Homo sapiens: one gene and its partners. The protein of the gene in region 1 interacts with the protein of each later gene in a pairwise test. Each region holds a gene or a part of one and is shown in the gene's direction. Other genes may lie near its edges.

Region 1 (3,500 bases):
AGATATGGATATGCTAATTATTTTGATTTCATCATTACACAATGTATACGTCTATCAGAACATCACAGTATACTCTATAAATATGTACACTTACATGTCAATTAAAACAAAACTAAGACTGCTAGGGGCTTACACGGAGGGAATTGAGCCAGCATCACCACGATGGTGTTGTTGGAGAGTGAGCAGTTCCTGACGGAGCTGACCAGACTTTTCCAGAAGTGCTGGACATCGGGCAGCATCTATATCACCTTGAAGAAGTATGGTGGTGGAACCAAACCCGTTCCAAAGAAAGGTTCTGTGGAGGGCTTTGAGCCCTCAGACAAGTGTCTGTTAAGAGCTATCGATGGGAAAAAGAAGGTCAGCACTGTGGTGAGCTCCAACCAAGTGAATAAGTTTCAGATGGCTTATTCAAACCTACCGAGTGCTAACATGGATGGGCTGAAGAAAAGGGACAAAAAGAACAAAAGTAAGAAGACCAAAGCAGCAGCACAGTAAAGGGCACAAATTTCCTGCTTTCACCAATTAACCACTGAATTGTTATTTTTTCCTTTGGTTTTTACTTTTGGCCACATAGCTAGGTTTCTGGTTCCCCTACACTAGGTGTTTTCACATAAGATGTAGGGTCCTTTTGCAAAGAATAGTTGCAATGTTTATAGGGCAGTTGTGGTAAGAATCTAGTTTATTTTACATTTGGCTAATTGGTCTGTACTGCATGGTTATATACTCCTGGATTATAGATTAAAAGTCTCTGTAGTCATCTCTGTGAAGAGCAAGCTATGATTAAACATGTCTCTTTATAAAAAAAAAAGCACAAAAAAACTAAAACATATCTACATATATTTTTTAAAAATGCTTTAATTTCAGCTTTGAATTTTCCTTCATTTCCTTTGTCCTCAGGTTGGAGATATAAAAGGGCTGCTGAGTGCCTCAGAATAGGTTTTTCTATCCAAAAAACTTAAAATGCTGCATTCCTGCTTTACCTTTATGAATCTATTATGACAGTGCCAGAGAGGGTAATAAGAAAGAAAAAAAAATCGGCCCCTTAAGAAAGGAAATCGTTTTGTTTGTTGTTATATCTTTGGTAATAGAATATCTGTTTTATGGTGGGTTAGAAAAAGGGAAGAATGAGAGGATGCAGTTAATATTTATAAAGCACTCTGTACCACGGATCATGTTAAGTGCTTCACATGCATTATCTCACCTATTCCTCACCACAGTGTTATGAGGAATGTGCTACTAGTATTTTCCTTTTCAATAGGTCAGGAAACAGGCTTGGAGAAAATAACTTGCCCAAGATGCCACAGCTAGTTGGTATGGTGGAGTGGAGTTGAATCAAGTTCAGTCCTAATTCCAGAACCTAAACTTATTAATGCTGTACTACATTACATCTGTATACCTGAGCTAGGCTCTTTTGCTTATATTTTATTTAATTAAATAGATATTTTAAGGATTTGTTGGATTTTGTGAAATATGAAGAGGAGGAGGAGCGATATTCTGATAAATTATATGGATAGGAAGTAAAACAGATTTCCATCTTTTTTCTTTATTTTCTTTTAAAATTGGGATCAGATTCCAGTCCTGTTCGAAATCTGCAGTCTTTTGGCACTGAGGAGCCTGCTTACTCTACCAGAAGAGTGACCCGTAGTCAGCAGCAGCCTACCCCAGTGACACCGAAAAAATACCCTCTTCGGCAGACTCGTTCATCTGGTTCAGAAACTGAGCAAGTGGTTGATTTTTCAGATAGAGGTGAGTGGGTATGGTATGACTTAGACCTATTACAGAGCATCTGGGTGAAATTCTTTTTAAGGAGGGCTTGGGGCCACTGCAGGTAGATGCCTAATACTTCAGCTAGATGAATGCTGTTTGCTTGCTTCCTTTCTTATGTCTTTTTTTTTTTTTTTGAGACGGAGTCTCGCTCTATTGCCCAGGCTGGAGTGCAGTGGTGCAATCTTGGCTCACTGCAAGCTCTGCCTCCCGGGTTCACGCCATTCTCCTGCCTCAGCCTCCTGAGTAGCTGGGACTACAGGCGCCTGCCACCACGCCAGGCTAATTTTTTGTATTTTTAGTAGAGACGGGGTTTCACTGTGTTAGTCAGGATGGTCTCGATCTCCTGACCTCGTGATCCACCCGCCTCAGCCTCCCAAAGTGCTGGGATTACAGGTATAAGCCACCATGCCCAGCCTCCTTTCTTATACATTGCTGAGGACAGTTTGATATCAGAATATTCTCAAGGTCCAGAGTAGCTGGAGTATATTAAATCGTACCTGTAATAGGAAAAAGAGACTGGGCCCTTCTTAACCACATTTGAAAAGGGCTTGAAGCAGACTTTTCTTATAGCCATACTTCTCAGTCCATTTATCTCCAAATTTCTTAATGCAGAGGTCACAGACTGGTGAACTACTTCTAGCTGTCCGCATGGTTGGTTGGTTTGCTTGCACAGTGTTTAAAATTTTTTAAATTTGTTGCTAGTATTTGAAAACACAATGATTTCATATAAAAACCTGGATTAATAGTTTATTTTAAACAATGAAAAGATCTGGGAACACTGGGCGGCCAATCACCCATAGTAATAATTGGCTGGAGTTGAATAGTAGTTGTCCCCTTTAGATGGACAATGAGCTGTCTCTTTGGCCTTGCTGAGCCCCTGTAGGCATTTGGTTTGCAATTCCTGATTTAGAGTCTGGAATTTCAAGATTGAATTGTTAGACTACAAACAGGCTCACTCAAGACTCTAAGTCCATTCACATCTTACACCAAGCCTGTTCAGTGTCATCCAGAAAGATAATCACTGTCACTTATCTTCTGTCCTGTGTATCTCCTGGAAGGGAAGTGGGATAGTAATGTTTTAAAAACGTATTTCCATCTAGTTTTGATTATCCATGATTAGCAACTCAGGAGAAATACAGATAGGTGTAATAGATGAAGTACAAATTTAATTTTAATCAGAATTTAAAGTTGCACAAAATGGATGGTGTAGAAGTGCCTCTTCATTTTCCATTTAGCCATCTAGCAGATGAATAGCTGAAAGTTACTGGTTAAATCATAGAAAAAGAACCTGGGAAGCCCATAAACTCTGAATAGTAAACTTCTAAATAAATGAACTCCACTCATAACTTCTACCAATTGCTTTTGCTTTAGAAACTAAAAATACAGCTGATCATGATGAGTCACCGCCTCGAACTCCAACTGGAAATGCGCCTTCTTCTGAGTCTGACATAGACATCTCCAGCCCCAATGTATCTCACGATGAGAGCATTGCCAAGGACATGTCCCTGAAGGACTCAGGCAGTGATCTCTCTCATCGCCCCAAGCGCCGTCGCTTCCATGAAAGCTACAACTTCAATATGAAGTGTCCTACACCAGGCTGTAACTCTCTAGGTCAGTGTGCCCTAGCTTCATGACATCCTTTGTTCTGTGGTTCTCTCTCCCAGGATCATCCAGAAATGTTTTGTGTTCTGTTGGGATTTAGCTTCTTAGGCTCTTCAGTGGTCATGTGCTGA
Region 2 (3,500 bases), on another chromosome or scaffold:
TTAAACGATTTATTAAGAAAAAATTAACTTTTTAAAAAATATTTAAAATGTTTACTTTCATGTTTAATAAAAACTTGAAATATGCTAATAAACTATATGCAGAAAATATTTAACATAGCAAGTGTGAGACTGCTATCTTTAGAAAGGTCTGCCTGCAAGAGTAGCACTTGTTTGGAGTCTGGGAACTTGACACTTGTACCATTTCCTAAATAGTAATGGTGATTTACTATGCCTAGCCTATTTGTACAAACATGAATGTGTGCTCTCTTTTGGGGAGTCTGGAATTTTGGTACATGCTAGGTAGAGTGTGCCCAATAAATACCTTGGGTGCTGAGTCTCTAATTGGCTCTCCTGGGCAGAAATACTGTGTACATGTTGCTGCATTTTTGTTGCTGGGGGAAGTGTGTGTTCTGTAGCACTTCATGGGACGGAGAAAGCATAAGGAAGCCTGCACATGGATTTTTCCAGACTCTGCCTGTGTCTTTCCCGTCATCTCGCTGTGTATCCTTACCACTGTGATCCAACCACATACTGATTTGTGTGAGCTCTAGGGTTCTCTGAACATGAAAGCAATCTTGGTAACCTTTGACACAAAGTGATATATTTGCTGAAAATTTTCCATTAGGGTAGAACAAATCTACTGGGAATCATTGGTCTGTATTCAGCAGACATTATTGAGTAACTAATATGTACTATGTGTACATGCACATAGTTATAAGGATGTAAAACAATACAGTTGGTGTACTTAAGGAGATCATTGCTGGAAGGGGCAGATCATAATGCCATATGTTATGTAGGCAGAGTCAAGATACTATGGGAGAAAAATTAGGACATACAGCTTAGGGATTTCAGTGACAGTTTTATAGGGGAGGTATCATTTGAACCGATTTTCTGAATGTTAGCAGGGATCAGGCAGTGAAAATAGGTTGGATTCAGATGGTGAAAAGCCTGAAGCGTTTGGAGTTGCGGAGACGGGTGGGGAGCGACAAACAGGAGAGAGACATGACTAGAGTCATGCACTACAAAGTTGTCTTACGTACGTATCCATTAGTAAGCATTGCTAAAGGCATCCATGTCTCAGTCACTAATAGCCATTTTCCTTTTTTGTAGTTATTAAGAAATTTATGATTCAGGGTGGAGACTTCTCAAATCAGAATGGGACAGGTGGAGAAAGTATTTATGGTGAAAAATTTGAAGATGAAAATTTCCATTACAAGGTAAAGTAGAGAAAATGCATGTTATTGCTGATAAAAAGATTGTTATATATCTGGAATACTTGTTGGATTAAGACACCAAAAAATGTTTCAAGTGTGCTTAGATTCTCCATTTCTTGTAATAGGAATCACTTTTGTAAATAATGGTTCTTTAATATGGAAAAGTTTTCATTCAGTAATGATTAATTCAGCATTATTTCATTGTGATCCAGTTTTTATATGCTTCAGTTAAGCCAGTGAGTTTTTAAATGCGACCAGCATCTGGCAAAATTGTTTCCAGGAAAAATGTTTCCATTGTTGGAAGGATGGTAACTTGTGCATCCTTATCCTTGAATTTGAAGAGCAACAAAACCATCACTAATATCCAGGATGTCAGGGGATTTGCACACTAGCAGATATAGTTAAATGTCCAAGCTCCTAAAGGACTTCAGTGGTGCCTGTGCCTTCTTGTCTTCGTTGTCCCAAGATGTAATTGGGGTATATTGCATCATTCAAGTTATAAGAATGGACATGTAAGTACAAAAGTAAAGTGATATTTTTGGAAATAAGGAATATGAGCAAGGGTATTAGGATAATTTGAAAAAATGTCGTCAGTCTTCCAGTCAGTGTTTATTGAGCCACTATCACTGGCACCAAAGGGTTTATAAAAATGAAAGGCCTTGATGACAAGGAATTTATAATCCTACCTCAGAGACAAGATTAAGATACATGGGACTACTGGAGAATAATAGTATATAAATAAATGCTAAATTGATTGAATATCCTTGCTTGTATAACATTGCTAATACTGTCTATATACTGCAGGAGAAAGATGTGATTTATGCAGTCTGAATTATTATGGAAGTCATTGAGGAGGAATGGCTACTTGGGCTGTGCAGACTGGGTCTTGCAAGGCGGCAACATGTCTGAGATTTGGTTAGGCAGGAACTGTAGTATTGATGCAGAATTTAAAAAGGGACGTCGGTGAGGAAAGACAAAGGCAAGAGACGTTGAGGAAATAAAGTTCTAGTTACTGTTGTACCAAAGGAAGCTACCAGAAGGATGAAAACTAAAGGTGATGTGATGATCACATTGACATAGAGAAAAGGGGCCTATAGACAAGACACATGATTCTTGCTTTCTATAAACGTGGTGGCCTTAAAATCTGAATTTGATTTAGACTGAGGGGAGTAAAAGGCATTTTGGTGGGGTGGGGGGTGTCATGAAACATTATATAACATGAGAGTTACGGTGCATGCACCAACAAGGAATACATTTAGAAAGCCTAGGAGATAAAGTGAAAAGGTTAAGAAATTGGGTTTCATAGATCCTTTGACAGGATTATGCCAAGGTAGAATTTTGATTTCAAGATGTATGCAGCAGTTTCTTTTGAGCACTCTCCGAAGAGGTGATTCATCTGGGATGAAAACCTAATCCAAATCCTGTATGATTTGGATTCTTTTGAGATTAGGAAAGTACCAAACTGAATGTCTTGGGTAAATTCAGTATCCCATTATTGTTCCAGTTTATTGATGTTTTGTAAAGGAAGACTTATACTGTAGGCATATTTATGAATTTGGAAGACCGTTCAGGTCTTCCCAGAAAAAAAGAGCATTCATCATAAAGAGGGCAAAATATATTACAAGAGTTTCATAATGCTGCATCTTCATTTTAAAGGTGAAGTGTAAGTATTTTCTCATGGCCAATTTAGAAATAACCCTCCCCCCGACTATTGTTTCTGTTACCTATTTACTTTGATAAGGTTTTTTAAAGTTTAAAGTGATTAAGTGCCCCATGTTTTGTGAATTAAAGGTTGCAGTTTATAAAAAAATAAAAAGTAATTAAAAAATTTTATAAGTGAAAAGTAAAAAAAAGTAGTTTGATCTAAATGGTAGTATAGTGCACCCCAGTTTTATGTTCAGTAAAAGAACAGTTCAGACTAACACACAATTCAGAAAAGAACACATCTAACCTTGGTTTTCTTTTAATTTTTATTTCTACAGCATGATCGGGAGGGTTTACTGAGCATGGCAAATGCAGGCCGCAACACAAACGGTTCTCAGTTTTTTATCACAACAGTTCCAACTCCTCATTTGGATGGGAAACATGTGGTGTTTGGCCAAGTAATTAAAGGAATAGGAGTGGCAAGGATATTGGAAAATGTGGAAGTGAAAGGTGAAAAACCTGCTAAAGTAAGTAAAAAGTTACAGTGAAATACACTTATTATCTTAGTTGCTATCTTTTTGAGACGGAGTCTCGATCTGTTCCAGGCTGGAGTGCAGTGGTGCGGTCTCGGCTCACTGCAGC
Region 3 (3,500 bases), on another chromosome or scaffold:
AATAAAGAAGGAGGTAGACCATATTCAGGGAAGGGAAGTTGGTATCTCTCAGAAAGTGTTAGATGTGTACACTTTTTGCCAGTGTTCTGAGACTTCCGTTTTCAAGGTTCTGTGCAGCATTGGGGCAGCTATTTGTGTTTTAAGTTTTGTCACGTAAGATAATTACCTATCCTTGGCATTAGCTGTAGTCAGATGCTTTTAGCTAATAGTTATGATTCACCCTTACAATGACAAACCAACTAGGTTAGAAACTTTAAGGTAATTTTTTACCTTTTCTTTAATTAGCACTTTTTTTTATTTTTGAGACAGAGTCTCGCTCTGTCACCCAGGCTGGAGTGCAGTGGCACAGTCTCAGCTCACTGCAACCTCCATCTCCTGGGTTCAAGTGATTCTTCTGCCTCAGTCTCCCAAGTAGCTGGAACCACAGGCACGTGCCACAACTCCTGGCTAATTTTTTATATTTTTAGTAGAGACAGGGCTTCACCGTGTTAGCCAGGATGGTCTCGATCTCCTGACCTTGTCATCTGCCCACCTCGGCCTCCCAAAGTGTTGGGATTACAAGCATGAGCCACCGTGTCAGCCTAATTAGCACTTTTGATTACCATCCAACTCACTTTACCTCTTCCAAATATCCAGGACAATATCATAATCTGAAAATTTTTTTGTGGACATAAAACATTTTTCATAATATTCCATTACCATAGAAATTCTTTATTATAATAATTCTTGTATTCAGCTCTAAAAAATGTAATATACAAGTTACATGAACAATTGTAGCTAAAAATATATACAGCAATTAAAAGTTTTTTAAAAGTTCATGTACATATTATGAATTTTAAATATGGAAATATGTTTTAATTCAATATTCTATTTTTGTAGAATTTTGGACAAAGTGTCCTGCTAAGTTCAAGTGAGCCAAAACAAACTACAAGGGGTACTTCTTATATTGAAGAAGGTATGTTTTAGTTTAAACATTTTTCTCTGATCTTTGTTCCCAGTGATTTTTTTTCTTGTATGCCTATTCTCAGATGCTAACGTATTATGTAATTGTTAAAGCACCATTTAAAACCTGAACTCTCCTCACCCCTGCACATCCAGGTCATTGTCAGTGTTCCTTTATTCTAAATAATAATGTATTGAACATCTTTCTACATCAAGTTATTTTCTGATTTTTACTTATTTCTGTAGGTTAGATTTCCAGAATTAAAATTACAGTAACTGACATGTAAATGCCACCCAGTAAATATTTATTGAATTAAACTCCATGTATTAAATGAATACTGGATCAAAAGAAATAAGCATTGATATGGCTGTTCATATATATTGCTAAAGTATTTTCCGGAAAAGTATTATTCAAAATTGTTCTAGTAGTGTGTGTCCAGTGGTGTATGTCAACTTGAGGTAGAATCTTTTCATATTTGCTATAGACAGAAAAATAGTATTATATTAGTTTTGATTTCTATACCTTTCATTAATATTATGCTTAATTGCTTTTCTGTGTATTTTTTGGTGAACTGTCTCTTTGTACTCTTTTTTCTTAGATATTAGAGTTCGAAATTTTCTTACTGATGTCTGCAAATTATTTAGCTATGAAGGATTCTAATTCTTATATTAGTTGAAGATGTTTCATTACTACTTGCATGTTATTCTACTTATATTGTATTTTCACATATATTTTAATTTGTATCTGTTCATTCAGTAAATGATTATTGAGAGCTAATCTTCTGCTTACAAGTAGGTATTGGATATACATGTAGAATATCCCTAATCCAAATATTTCAAAATCAAAAATGCTCCAAAATCCAAAATTTTTTGACCCCTGACATGATACCACAAATGGAAAATTTTACACCTGACTTCATATGATGGGTCACAGCTAAAACACAAGCTCATACCATACAGTTTATTTAGCATCCCCAAGGGGAAAAAAGATCCTCTCAGCCCTCTTCAGCTGCACTATATCTTTCCCATGCACACCCAGATTCCCCCATGTAAGCATGCTCACAAGGAGTAATAAAATGATACATGTACCAATGGCAGATTCCCCACGAGACCCCACATGGGGCCAAGACCTACATGCATTACTCACTGTATTTTTTTGCTTTTTCTCTGCTTTGTGATGTAAAGATATTGTTGAAAATATCAAAAAGACCTGAAGATACCCCTGTGGGTAGCAGTGATAAGAAAAAGAGGAAACATTTCTGTTTATCAATAGCCCAGAAAGTCAAACTTGGAGAAACTACACCAGCAACCTAAGTGTAAAATGTCTTATAGAAAAGGATGGTGTTGGAATGACCACAATATATGACCTGAAGAAACAGAAGGATAAACTGTTGAAGTTCTGCTTTGGAAGAGATGAACAGAAGTTAATGCAAAACATTAAACACTGCATAGGATTTCAACCATGAAGTCAAAGAGTGGATCCATCAGCGTCGCATGAGCACATGCCACTTAATGGTATGCTGATCATGAAACAAGCAAAGATCTATCATGATGAACTGAAAATTGAAGAGAACCATGAATATTCAACAGGCTGGTTATAGAAATTTAAGACACAGCATTATTTTTAAAGATTTGTGGTGATCAAGCGTCTGCTGATTACAAAGCAGCAGAGAAATTCATTGAAGAGTTTGCCAAGGTCATCGCTGATGAATATCTGACACCAGAAGAAGTATATGTTACTGATGAACATCACTGGTTTGGTGTTGTTACTCAAAAAAACATTGACTATAGCTGATGAGACAGCCCCTACAAGAATTAAGAATAACAGAATAACTGCTAGGATGTGCTAATGACTCAGTCACGCCCAAGTGTAAATTTGCTATGATAGGCAAAAGCTTGTGTCCTCACTGATTTCAAGGAGTGAATTTCTTACCAGTCCATTAATGTGCTAACAAAAGGACATGGATCACCAGGGACATCTTTTCTGATTGGTTTCACAAACACTTTATATCAGGGAAGCTGGATTGAATGATGACTGCAAGATTTTGTTATTCTTTGACAACTGTTCTTTTCATCCTCCAGCTGAAATTCTCATCAAAAATAATCTTTATGCCACGTGCTTTCCCCCAAATATTACTTCATTAATTCAGCTGTGTGACCAGACTATCGTTAGGTAGATGAAGAGTAAATACATATAAACACTTTCTTGAACAGCATGCCAGCAACAGTGAACAGAGATGTGGATGTAGAAGGTTTTCAAAACGAGTTTAGCATGAAAGATGCCATACATGCTGTTGCAAACACTTGGAACACAGGGACTAAAGACACAATTGTGCATTCCTGGCACAACCTCTGGCCTGCAACTATGTTCAGTGATGATGAACAAGGTAGTGACTGAAGGATTCTGTATGTCAAGTGAGAAAAAATTATGTCTGACCTCATTACGTAAGCAAAAAAATATACCTTCAGAGTCTATCAGTAAGCTGGAAGAAGTGGATATCAAAGAGGTTATTAACATCGATAATAAGACTCCAGGTGTTTTCATTGACCAATGATGA
Region 4 (3,500 bases), on another chromosome or scaffold:
ATGAATTTAATTGGTGACATCATTTTCAGTTTTAAACATTAACTCAAATATCTTTGTTGAAATTTACTGACAATCTCATTCCTCTGATAAGTTAATCACTCCTTTCTCTGCTATTAAAGCATTTTGTATATATCTTTAATGTATTTTGACTATACCTTCTCCACTACTTGTGAATACTTTGGTTTTTAGTTTGTTTGTTTGTTTTCTGAGACAGGGTCTCACTTTGTCACCCAGGCTGGAATACAGTGGCATGATCATGGCTCACTGTAGCCTCTAATTCCTAGGCTCAAGCGATCCTCCCACTTCAGCCTTTCAAAGTCTTGGGAGTCATGAGTCCCTGCTGCCAGCTCTTTGTGAGCACGTTGAAGACGTGCTATAGTACCTTATATTTTTGTATTCCTAAAACCTAGGCATTATACAAATTGAAGAATGAATTTTCTACAAAAATTCCCCTCATGACTTGGTTTATTTCTGATCTTTGGCTGTTGCTTATTAACTCTTTGCCTAGATTGTATTCTCCTTCCTTTCACACTATTCCTATTCTGTTCAGTCCTTAAAATCCAGCTAAATCCAATTAATGAGGTCTTCAGTGACTCTCATTTATTCATAACTTGTTTAGTTAGTCTAGTGTCTGTGTGACTGCCTTCTGTTACTTTGTGTCCCATTAGTACCTGCCTCTATGCCTTACCATTTTGAGCAGATCCTTGAGTGGGATGATACGTGCAAAACTGTGCTTTAGGCAGTTTGTTGTTATAGGCACCTGCTCTCTACTCTGTTTGCTCTCAACTTAGTAGGTGGAGCAGCAATTTTCCTTTTTTGGTATATGGAATATTCTGGTAACTTTTTTGCAACTTTAAGAAATTTCAAGCCAGGTGCAGTGGCTCACATCTGTAATCCCAGCACTTTGGGAGGCCGAGGCAGGTGGATCACCTGAGGTCAGGAGTTCAAGACCAGCCTGGCCAACATGGTGAAACCCCATCCCTACTAAATACAAAAAAAATTAGCTGGGCGTGGTGGCACATTCCTGTAATCCCAGCTACTTGGGAAGCTGAGGCAAGAGAATTGCTTCAACCTTGGAGGCGGAGGTTGCAGTGAGCTGAGATTGCGCATTGTACTTCAGCCTGGGCAACAAGAGTGAAATGCCGTCTTAAAAAAAAAAATTTCAAACATGCAGCAAAGGTGAAAGAATACTACAGTGAACACCCATATGCCTTCTGTTTGGATTCGACTGTTAACCAACATTTAACCATTTTGCTTTAACTCTATATCCTCCCTTTCTTGAATGATTTGAAATTAAATTGCAGATATACTGCTTTTCCCTGTAATACCTCAGGATGCATGTCTTTGAAATAATGCTTTTTCCTACGCTTTTCTACATTTTTATTTCAAGCCAGTCTCCAGCTGAAAACATATAAAATCATTATCATACCTAAGGCAATTAGCATGAAATCTTTAGCATCATCTTTTTTTTTTTTTCGAATGAGTTGGTGTAGTTCTATTTTTTTTTGGCTTTGTTCCACAGTTGTTGAAGAGTTGGTTTAATTCTAGGTTACACAGAGTTTAGGGTAGAACAAAGACCAAAGAGCAGTCTCTGGCAAGATTCTGGGCTGGTTTTACTTTAAATTCATAGCTAAGGCAGGAATGGAGTGAAAACAACTAAAGAGAGGCCGGGCGCAGTGGCTCACGCCTGTAATCCCAGCACTTGGGAGGCTGAGGTGAGCAGATCACCTGAGGTCAGGAGTTTGAGACCAGCCTGGCCAACATTGTGTAACCTCGTCTCTACTAAAAATACAAAAATTAGCCGGGTGTGGTTGCGCATGCCTGTAGTCCCAGCTACTCGGGAGACTGAGGCATGAGAATCGCTTGAACCCAGGAGGTGGAGGTTGTAGTGAGCTGAAATTGTGCCACTGCACTGCAGCCAGGGCAACAGAGCGAGACTGTCTCAAAAAAAAAAAAAAAAAGAAAAAGAAAAACAACTAAAGAGATGATGAGCCACTGTAAGCATTTTAATTTATTTTATTAATATTTTTTATTTAAAATTTTAAAATTTTGTTTATTTTGAGACAGGGTCTTACTTTGTCATCCAGGTTGGAGTGCAGTGGCACAATCACAGCTCACTGCAGCCTCAACCTCCCAGCTCAAGCAATCTGCCCACCTTGGCCTCACAAAGTGCTAGGATTACAGGTGTGAGCCACCACACCTGCGGTTTTTTTTTTTTTTTTAAACAAAAGTTTATTCTTTAATGTGCAGTAGACTCCAGCTTCAAGACGACACTTCATTCCAGCTATAGGTGGCAACAGATATTATGGCAGGGAATACAGATGTTTAAATACGAATGAAATCAAGGGTCACCATTGCTTCAGGCACAGGGCACAGCTTACTTTCTGCCAGATTTTTAAATTCCACCTGTGGCCGGAGCCCCTTCCAGGAGGCTTTCGCTTTTAGCTCCTTGTGTTTCTTTCGTTCCTTTTCTTGTTTCTGCTTGAAAGCCTTATTCATCTTCTTGGCCTGCTTTTTGGGCAGTTTCAAAGGGTTCTTCTTGCCACCTTTGAGGCCGGACCTGGCACCTGCTGCCCCTTCCTGACTCTGTCACCACAAACAGCTAGCCTCATCTTTTTAAAGAACGTTCCATATTTTGGAATTTCTTATTGTATGCTTAAAATGTCATGTATTTTGTTTCTCAATTCCTGTTGTTTCTCTATTCCTTTTATTTCCTGTAAACTAGAAGTTAGATCTAGAGAGGTTTGACTAAATTTGGGTCAAATATTTTTGGCAAAAATACTTCATAGAGGCCAGGTGCGCTGGCTCATGTCTGTAATCCCAGCACTTTGAGAGGCTGAGGCAGATGGATTGCTAGAGCCCAGGAGTTCAAGACCAGCCTGGACAATTTGGCAAAACCCTGTCTCTATTTTAAAAAAAGAAAAAAAAATGCTGGGTTTGGTGGCCTGCGCCTGTAGTCCCAGCTACTTGGGAGGTTGAGACAGGAGGATGGCTTGAGCCAGAGAGGTGGAGGCTGCAGTGAGCCGACATCCTGCTGCTGTACTCCAGCCTAGGCGACAAGAGAACCCTGTCTCAAAAAAAAAAAAAAAAAAAAAAAAAAAAAGAAAAAACTTCACAGGTGATGATACGTGATTTATGTTGTGAGGATATACTTCTAGCTATGAGCCTTCAATAAGGTGGTAGGGACTGCCAGATGTTAGCTTGCGTTATTTACAATGCCAAATTTACCTGGTTAATGTGTCCATTGGATTTCTTCATCAAAGAGGTATATTTTTCCCTTTGCAGTTATACTTGATCTGTGGGGTGATAACTTTAGCATCATGTGAGTACCTCACTTCTCAAAATATTTTTCACTTAATGATTGATGATTATTAGCTGAGTCATTTATTGGGGGTTTTCTAATTTTGTTATTTGTTTATATTCATTAACTGTTTTCTGTAATAAAGAGCTTTTGCTTTCCCCCTTTCGTGTTTAAATGTTTAAATTTTGAAATAAATATG

Evidence for each region. Proteins that work in one complex are often made in the same cells at the same time.
Region 2: the proteins of KAT7 (region 1) and PPID interact in a two-hybrid assay, tested with the Homo sapiens proteins (one large-scale study listed by BioGRID and IntAct).
Region 3: the proteins of KAT7 (region 1) and CEP126 interact in a two-hybrid assay, tested with the Homo sapiens proteins (one large-scale study listed by IntAct).
Region 4: the proteins of KAT7 (region 1) and WDR33 interact in a two-hybrid assay, tested with the Homo sapiens proteins (one large-scale study listed by BioGRID and IntAct).

What each region holds. Positions count from the first base shown.
Region 1 is NC_000017.11:49,795,181-49,798,680, forward strand, and holds part of KAT7 (histone acetyltransferase KAT7), read left to right. Parts: intron 1-1,569; coding exon 1,570-1,746; intron 1,747-3,138; coding exon 3,139-3,378; intron 3,379-3,500. UniProt on the Homo sapiens protein: Catalytic subunit of histone acetyltransferase HBO1 complexes, which specifically mediate acetylation of histone H3 at 'Lys-14' (H3K14ac), thereby regulating various processes, such as gene transcription, protein ubiquitination, immune regulation, stem cell pluripotent and self-renewal maintenance and embryonic development.
Region 2 is NC_000004.12:158,716,897-158,720,396, reverse strand, and holds part of PPID (peptidyl-prolyl cis-trans isomerase D), read left to right. Parts: intron 1-1,110; coding exon 1,111-1,217; intron 1,218-3,196; coding exon 3,197-3,385; intron 3,386-3,500. UniProt on the Homo sapiens protein: PPIase that catalyzes the cis-trans isomerization of proline imidic peptide bonds in oligopeptides and may therefore assist protein folding. Proposed to act as a co-chaperone in HSP90 complexes such as in unligated steroid receptors heterocomplexes.
Region 3 is NC_000011.10:101,981,010-101,984,509, forward strand, and holds part of CEP126 (centrosomal protein of 126 kDa), read left to right. Parts: intron 1-879; coding exon 880-955; intron 956-3,500. UniProt on the Homo sapiens protein: Participates in cytokinesis. Necessary for microtubules and mitotic spindle organization. Involved in primary cilium formation.
Region 4 is NC_000002.12:127,804,672-127,808,171, reverse strand, and holds part of WDR33 (pre-mRNA 3' end processing protein WDR33), read left to right. Parts: intron 1-3,500. UniProt on the Homo sapiens protein: Essential for both cleavage and polyadenylation of pre-mRNA 3' ends.